Regions from separate parts of the Homo sapiens genome. Here all the other regions are linked to region 3. The links come from fine-mapping of genetic effects on gene expression. A gene starts in region 3. Each other region holds a variant in brackets. All regions are shown on one strand. Distances are from middle to middle. Region 1 overlaps FAM153A (family with sequence similarity 153 member A). Region 2 overlaps PDLIM7 (PDZ and LIM domain 7). Region 3 holds the start of FAM193B-DT (FAM193B divergent transcript).

The links.
Region 1: its variant is fine-mapped to the expression of FAM193B-DT in whole blood (INTERVAL, PIP 0.94).
Region 2: its variant is fine-mapped to the expression of FAM193B-DT in whole blood (INTERVAL, PIP 0.92).

Annotation. Positions count from the first base shown.
Region 1 is chr5:177,722,174-177,724,824 of GRCh38, forward strand. FAM153A (family with sequence similarity 153 member A) reads right to left here. Exons shown (of 23, transcript NM_001413826.1): 21 at 2,611-2,648; 22 at 2,122-2,189; 23 at 1,191-2,033. The coding sequence ends at 1,940. All of the region lies in intron 4 of LOC107986489 (a long non-coding RNA gene), which reads left to right. Among named protein-coding and RNA genes, the nearest start is that of FAM153A, 59 kb to the right of the region's middle. The variant G/A (reference allele first, on the strand shown) is at 1,442.
Region 2 is chr5:177,486,128-177,488,923 of GRCh38, forward strand. It overlaps PDLIM7 (PDZ and LIM domain 7), which reads right to left. Exons shown (of 13, transcript NM_005451.5): 10 at 1,941-2,121. Among named protein-coding and RNA genes, the nearest start is that of PDLIM7, 10 kb to the right of the region's middle. The variant G/A (reference allele first, on the strand shown) is at 1,100.
Region 3 is chr5:177,553,139-177,555,906 of GRCh38, forward strand. It overlaps FAM193B-DT (FAM193B divergent transcript), which reads left to right and starts at 1,490. Exons shown (of 3, transcript XR_941274.3): 1 at 1,490-1,791. It overlaps FAM193B (family with sequence similarity 193 member B), which reads right to left and starts at 1,425. Exons shown (of 9, transcript NM_001190946.3): 1 at 1,111-1,425. The coding sequence starts at 1,320. RefSeq lists silencers at 594-703, 1,034-1,243 and enhancers at 1,124-1,627, 1,354-1,513, 1,534-1,683.

The sequences.
Region 1 (2,651 bases), 170 kb after region 3:
TGCTGGGGTGCAGTGGCATGATCTCGGCTCACCGCAACCTCCGCCTCCTGAGTTCAAGTGATTCTCCTGCCTCAGCCTCCCAAATAGCTGGGACTACAAGAGTGCGCCACCACGCCTAGCTAATTTTTGTATTTTTAGTAGAGACGGGGTTTCACCTTGTTGGCCAGGCTGGTCTTGAACTCCTGACCTCAGGTGATCCACCCGCCTCGGCCTCCCAAAGTGCTGGGATTACAGGCATAAGCCACCACGCCCAGCCAGGAAAGTATTTAAAAACAAATTAAGCAAAGATTATAAAAGTTTTTGGAGTAACACATTTCCCGAAATGATCACGATCCACATCAAGTCTGAGCCATGTTGACATCCCCACGTCGGGGCCCTTCCTGGTGGTCGAGGAATCTGCAACACAGACAGAGGTGCAAGGGTCACTAGAGAGGCACAGAGGTAGAGGGAGGAGGGGCTCCCTGGGATGGGTGTGCAGGTCTCAGAGACCTCCTTGGGCCCTGGAAGGTGACCTGGGGCCCCTGAGCTCCCCACAATCAGGTCTACTCAGATGTCAAGGCACTGAGCCCTGTGTGCTGCTCTCTGCTGAGGAGTTATCTGTCCACAGAGAGTGTGAGTGTCATGGAGGAAGAATGAACCTGGGCGCTCACACGGGCACCTTCAGGGGGCTGGTTCCCCGGAGGGTAAAACAGACACACAGAAACGGAATTTCAAGCATACCAGGATCAACAGGCAGAGTCCCATGCCCCTGGGCCCTAAGAGGAGCAGGAGGTCTCATGACACAGGGTGGGGGTGGTGACCCTGCCTTGCCACCCAGATCCTCTGTGCCATCCAGACGGAAGAGCTGCACGTTGAATATGCATAGCTTCCTGGAGAAGAGCTGCACGTTGAACATGCATAGCTTCCTGGAGAAGAGCTGCACGTTGAACATGCATAGCTTCCTGGAGAAGAGCTGCACGTTGAACATGCATAGCTTCCTGGAGCATGTCATTGTTATTGCCTAATAAGACCTGGTCTTTCTAGCATCCCCACCGGACCTGTCTTTGCTTTGTAATTTTTAAAATTATGCTTTGGTAAGACACAAATTTCTCATGTTTGTATATTCTAGCATAAAAGGGTTACAGAAGACATACATTTGAAAGTGAAAAACAGTGTATATGTACACACACACACACACACATTCATATGTGTACCTTATTTCAAGATTGGAAAATATATTTAAAAAACAGAGGCTCGCTAAATCATGTCCTCAAACCCTCCCAAGTGAGCATGGCCCTGAAATGTCTTCAAGGGTTTGTTTTGTTGGCATTTGGCCCAAGCCAGTGCCCTCTACATACAGAAGCCTCCAACCTCATCTTGAAAAAGGGGGCCATGAGGCCACCCCAGGCCCCCACAGAGGCTGAAGGACCCCTGGAACTGGAGGCCCCCAGACCCCCCAGAG[G/A]CTGAAGGACTCCTGGGACTGGACACATTTCAGTGCTTCTTGGATCCTGCCGTGTCCCCTGCTTGACACCAGGACCTACTGAGGGCCTGCTGGCCTGCAATACTGGGTCGGGTGGGCTGCTCGCTTGTGTGACAAGGAGCCTGGGGGTGCCTCCATCCCTCTCACACCTTTCCCAGGAGGCCTGAACCAGGGGGATTCATGTCAACCCTAGTGTCTCCTCAGGATGAACTAGTGATGCTCCCTGTTGTCCTCAAGGGGCTGGGAAGACAGAGCTAGGTCCCCCCAAATGAGATGTTGGTGAGCTGAAGAGTTACTGCAGACAACACAGTGCAAAGCCCTTGGAGTCCTGCACATGGGGGTGCGACCAGCACCTCAGTGTCTCCCTCACTAAGCAGCCTGTGGAGGGCTCAGCCCAGCAGGCTCAGGGGCTGCTATGGAGTGGGTGTCTGTTTCCTGGAGCATGTTCTCAGGGCATCCTTCACTTGCCTTCAGAGGTCTCTAAAATATATTAAAAATGTCCCAACATTTCAGGACATTCCACCGGCTTTTCTTGCTGGGCTTCCTGGTTTTCTTCTTGGGCTTTCTGGTTTTCCTGATGGGACAACAAGAAAGTGAGCGTAGCCAAGAAGAACATGGGCACGTGCCCACTTCCCTCATCATTCTGCCCACTGCACACTCACACTTCCTCTTCCACTTTGGTCTTTTCTGTTGCTTCTTCTGCAGGTGCAGAGGAAGGACTTGCTGACATCTGTGAGGAAGAGAACAATTGTGCATGTCCAGAGACGCCAGTGCAGGAAAAGACCTATCTGTGAAGGCGGTGTCCAGAGCAGACCCAGATGTCACTGGGGGGTCCCTCCAGCAGGGTGGGGTCCAGCTCTTCTGACCCCAGCCCAGCCCCCTCCCCTGGACCCTGTAGGGTTGTTCAGCAAGATTCAAAGCTGCAACCTGGGGGCCAGTAAACAGGGCAATGCCAAGGCAGTGGGCAGGAGGGCTGGAGAGGGATTTTATCGACACTGAAGACCCGAGGACCTCAACTGTGGGATGAGACCAGGTCCTTCAGGAGAACAATCACAAGAGAGGGAAAGAGGAAAAGGACTAGAGCTAAAAAAGGAGCTCATGAGTCAGAAAGAGGATAAAAGACAGCCAGCATATAAGAGGAGATCAATTACCTGCTGGTGGCTGCCTGTAATGGTGGAGTCTTCCAATTCTG
Region 2 (2,796 bases), 67 kb before region 3:
ATGCTGGTCTTGAACTCCTGGGCTCAAGCAATCCTCCCACCTTGGCCTCCCAAAGTGCTGGGATTACAGGCATGAGCCACTGCATCATGCAGGCAAATCTTCTGATTTTTTAAATTGTTTGCTACTGATTTTAAAATGAAACAGTGTGGGCCAAGCAAGACATAAGTGTGGGGGACATGTAGCCTTCGGATGGTGCATTTCTGCCCTCCACAACACCTGTACCCCATCTTACATCTACCTTGCAACCGTGCCGGCCCTAGCATAGTGCCACCCTTCTCTTCAGTGAGGCCCAGAGAGAGCAACTAGCCCCTGCTCACACAGCCAGTAGATCACAGAAATAGGTTTTCTGCCCATGTCTGGCTGGCTCTTCTCACTGTCTGGTGTTGCCTGTTTTAGAGGAGCAGACAAGGTCACAGTGAAGGAACTTGGGCTTTGAGCTGGTGGGAGAGGGGGCTCTACCAGGGGTGTGGGCTGGTAGGGCAGGAGCCCAAGGCTGGGAGGCAGATTTCTCTTTCTTTTTTTCTTTTTGAGACAAGAGTCTCGCTCTGTCGCCCAGGCTGGAGTGCAGTGGCGCGATCTCGGCTCACTGCAAGCTCTGCCTCCCAGGTTCACGCCATTCTCCTGCCTCAGCCTCCCGAGTAGCTGGGACTACTCCACCATGCCCGGCCAATTTTTTTGTATTTTTAGTAGAGATGGGGTTTCACCGTGTTAGCCAGGATGGTCTCAATCTCCTGACCTCGTGATCCGCCCATCTCGGCCTCCCAAAGTGCTGGGATTACAGGTGTGAGCCACCGTGCCTGGCCCTTTTTTTTTTTTTTTTTTTTTTTTTTTTTTTTTTTTGCTGTCTCCCAGGCTGGAAGGCAGTGGCACAATCTTGGCTCACTGCAACCTCCACCTCTCAAGATCAAGCGATTCTCCTGCCTCAGCCTCCCAAGTAGCTGGGACTACAGGTGCGCCAGCACACCCAGCTAATTTTTTTATTTTTAGTAGAGACAGGGTTTCACCATATTGGCCAGGCTGGTCTTGAACTCCTGACCTCAGGTGATCTGCCCACCTCGACCTCCCAAAGTGCTGGGATACAAGCATCAGCCACTGCATC[G/A]GCCACTCTCCCATTCTTGCCGACTGATGGAACCCCCAGTTTTGCTGGACACATGGGTGCCCAAAATAAAGACTATATTTCCCAGCCTCCGTTGCCACTGGGTGTGGTCATGTGACTGGGTTCTGACCAACAGGATGAAAGCAGAGGTTCAGGTGGCAGCATCCTCTAAGGATGGACGCCATGGGGCTCTGTCCCCTTTCTTCTCCTTCCGACTTCCTGCTGGCTGGAAGGTGAGCATTTTGGCGGAGGCTGAAGTGTCATCTTGCACCATGAGTGGTAAGTAAGCAGGTGCTGCCAACAGTCAAGCAACAAGGCGGAGCCTGGGTCCACCAGATCAGTCCCAGACCACCCACCCCGGGATGTTTTTAGATGAGAAATAAGCCACCATTATTTTGAGTTTCCCACTGCTCGTGGTCAAGGTAAACCTCACTAATATGAACATCACCACACAGAGCTCTCTGGCTACTCCTGGCAGCCCTGGCTCTGGATCCAGAAATGAGGAGGACGCATGAGACAGAGCAGCTTCAGCGTGTCAAGTTGGCCGTTCTGTCATTTCACCAGGGCAGGGAGAGCCCAAAGTGGGAGTCAGGAGGGCCCAGGGCTTCTCCTGGCTTGGTCCTCCTGCTCTTTGCAGCCTTGGGCGGTTTCTGAGCAGGAACATGGTCATTTGTTAAGAGCATCCTGACTAATGCAGGGTGAGGCCAGTACAGCAGCCCATTTATTACGCTGGTAAGGACCCGGAGGGCTCACTCGGGGAGAGACCTGGACTGTGGGTTTCCCAGCAGCCCTCGTTCCCACTGACAGGCTTGGGACCACCTCCCCGCCAGCCAGCCCTACTCACGCCTGTAATCTTCTTCTTGCACTTGGCACAGCTGGGTGCATAGCGCACGTCATAGCATGGTGGGCAGAAGATGGCGCCCTTCTCCTCAAAGAAGCCACCCTCTTCCAGGACCTTCCCACACTGGCTACACACAAACTCCTCCGGGTGGTACGCGTGGCCCAGCGCCACCAGGTAGCGGCCCCTGCAGGGAGGCGAGAGCGGTCAGAGGGAGCACACGCAGAGAGGTGGGGGTCTTGGCCCCCTTCAGGTTGACTGACCACCCACCAGGAGGCCTTGGGAGGGACAGTTCATTCTCCCCATTTTCCACATAGGATAGAAGACAGGCTTGGGAAGTGACCGTGGCAGCCGTGAAGCTTACAGAGCCAGTCCGCCACACTGAACTGCTGGTGACAGGAGAGGCAGCTTTAGAGCAGGGAGGACCCCGGGAGGAAGGGCTGACGACTGGAGCCTCATAAAAGCTGAGCCGCCCCTGGGCAAACCCTGGAGCTGCCCTGTCCTGCTGGCCTGCCTGTTCTACCTGGCAAGAGCTGATAGAGTCGGCTGGGCACAGTGGCTCACACCTGTAGTCCCAGCACTTTGGGAGGCCAAGGCAGGCCTGAGATCACCTGAGGTGAGGAGTTTGAGACCAGCCTGGCCAACATGGTAAAACCCCGTCTCTACTAAAAATACAAAATTAGCCAGGCATGGTGGCGGGTGCCTGTAATCCCAGCTACTCAGGAGGCTGAGGCAGGAGAATCTCTTGAACCCAGGAGGCAGAGGTTGCAGTGAGCCGAGATCGCGCCACTGCACGCCAACGTGGGCAACACAGTGAGACTCTGTTTCAAAAAAAAAAAAAAAAGAGCTGACAGAGATGAGA
Region 3 (2,768 bases):
AAGGTACCCCAAACGGCAACCCCACTCACATGCACAATTCCAGAGATTCTACTAGAAGGCTGTCAAGAGCCATGCCTTCTGGCTGCACCAGCCTCCCAGAGTCCCCTGCTGCCCGATGCAGTGTCTGCAGAGCCAAACGCATCTTCCGCCACGCCTCATCCTCATCCGGCGCCGCATCCGACCCTCCAAGACTCCTGCAGGAGCCTGCCTTCCTGGGCAGGCTCAGCCAAAAGACCAACTCAAAACTCTTTTGTCAGAGCAAGCTTAGGGAGAGCCACCCAGCCCCGAGTGCCACAACCCTCCCAGAGCAACCGTGGCCCATGTCACCCCCGCCTCTCAGTGAACTTTGGCAGGGTACCTCCCGTTATCTCCTTTGCTCAAAAGAAAGTGACCTTCTTCCAGGTGGCAAGCTGGAAGCTTTGGGGAATCCTCCTACTGTTCGCTCTCAGCAGGATTCTCCAAACCTGGGATCTCAAGGTCGGGGTGGGCTGCCTTGCGGAGCAGGGGAGGGAAGAAGGGCAGGTTCTGCTGGGTTTCCACCTCAGTGCAGAAACCCCACCAAAAACTCCTCCGGGCAGCCTGGCTGTCTGCTCCAACTGCTCTGCTGGGTATGGCGAGGAGGCGCCAGGAGACACAGCTGCTGAGGGGGCCGCGGCTGCAGGCGCTGCAGGGGACGGAGTGGAGCCGTTCCCGGGGGCAGAGGGAAGAGGCTGCAGTCGTCCAGTCCCAGAGCCCCGAGATGGCCTGTGGCTGAGGGAGCAGGTGGGCCCGGGGGAGGTGGCGGGCCGAGAGCGGAGCTGCGGCCTCGGGATCACAGCCCAGTCCCAGTCCCAGTCCCAGTGTGGGTGTACGGCCGGAACGCCCGGAGGCGGCGGGGAGAGGGGAGCAGCTTCAGCCTAGTCGCAGGAGCGCGGACCGAGCCTCGGCTTTGGGGAGAGGGGTCCAGCCTCCATTCCCGCCCCGGGGGAGAAAGCTTCGGCGCCGGACCCGGGGGAAGGCTGCTACCCCAGCCGCGGCAGGATGGCCCATCCCCAACCCCGCCCCACTCCCGCTCCCGCTCGGGGAAGGTGAAAGCGCCCGAGCCGCCGAAGTCTCCCCGCTCGCTCCTACCTGCGGGCCGGGCACCAGGTTGGGTTCGTCATCCTCCCTGGGGCCGTCGTGGTCGGGCTCCGCCGGCGCCTCCGGAGGGCCTGCACCCGCTCCCGCCTCCAGGCTTGGCGGCGGCGGGGGCTCGGGCGCCTGGGGCTTCTGCGGCCCCGCGGCCCGAGCCCGCTCGCGCCTGCCCGCACCGCCGCTCGGCCTGCTCCGCCTCCGCGTCATGCCGCCGCTCGCGCCGCTCCCTCGCTCCACACGCCGCCGCCGCCGCCGCCGCCGCCGCCGCCGCCGCCGCCGCTACCGCTCCCCTCACAGGACAACAGCCAATATGGCGGCGCCCGGTTCCCCCCCTCCGCCTGCTGCCAACAGGTCAGAGGGCACGCGGAGTCCGCGCCGCCGCACTAGCCCCCGAGGCCGCCTGCGCCATTTTGAATAAGGTCACCACCCGGAGTTCGCTGGGAGAAAAACTTGGTGGGGAGACGCCCTTCCCCCCCTACGCGGGACGGGAAGGATGCAACCTGCTGGAGGAACGCGTGTAATGCGGTGGTAATCGCGCTGCACCACCCTAGCACTTAATAATTGCCTGTTAAATGGATGAGTGAATTAATTTCTATAGTGTTACAATACTTTCACACCCATCGTCTGACTCCTTCCGACAGCACAGCGAGGCAGGTACGGATCATTCCCATTTTGCAGGTGAGAAATATTGAGGCAACATAAAGGCCTGGAAAAGGTTGCTGTACATCATTTTGTTGGAACTCCTGGGCTCGTGGACGGCCTGAGTTGAAAGGGACGAAGGTCTTTATTTGCAACATATGGTCTACTGGGAGTCCAGCGTTCTGTGCTTGGGACAGTGGGACTCAAACCCGACTCCTTGTTCCCGAGTCTGATGGGGAAGGTAGACACGTAGGTACATAGTTACAACCGGTGTGATAACGATGAGACGACTAGGTGTTTCCAAAAAAATAGTATGTGCAGGAGAGGATTTTGGAGTGGTACACAAAGGAGAATTTTTAAAACTTAATAATTATGTATTTAATTGTTAAAAATGGAATTTCCCCCCTCTTTTTGTGAATATACTGTATAATACATGTACATGGCACAGATTAAAAAAAAAAAGTTTTGAGTGAAGTCTGTCTCATGCCTGGGCTATGTACTCTGAAATTGTGGTTATATGCAGAGTTGCTATTGGTATCAACAGGGGCGGAATCCTGACACTGGCTTCCTAACCCATGGGGCAAGGGCTATTTTGAAAGGAAGAGCTACATGGAAGGCCCTGGAGCTCTCCTTAACTACCAAGAAAATAAATCAAAAATAGTACCTTATCTCACCCAGGGATTAATGCCACTATCAAAGATTTGAAAGACGCAGGGTGAGTCCCATCACATCACCATTACCTCTTCAGTTTGCCCAGAACAGAAGAGAGACGGCCTTGAAGAACAACAGAGCATTATGATAAACTTACTTATTCTGGTAAGAACCCCAACTGCAGGCATTCTTCCAGATGCGGTCCTTCTTGGGACAGATCAGCACAGTTGTTGGTCTCTAATAGGCAACAAGAGGTCTGGTCAATGGTTATTCTTCTGTACCAAACACCAGGAATCCCTTGCATTGATCTGGCAGGGGCAGCGGTAAACCCTCACTGTCTTGCTTCAGGGTATGTCACACTCTGG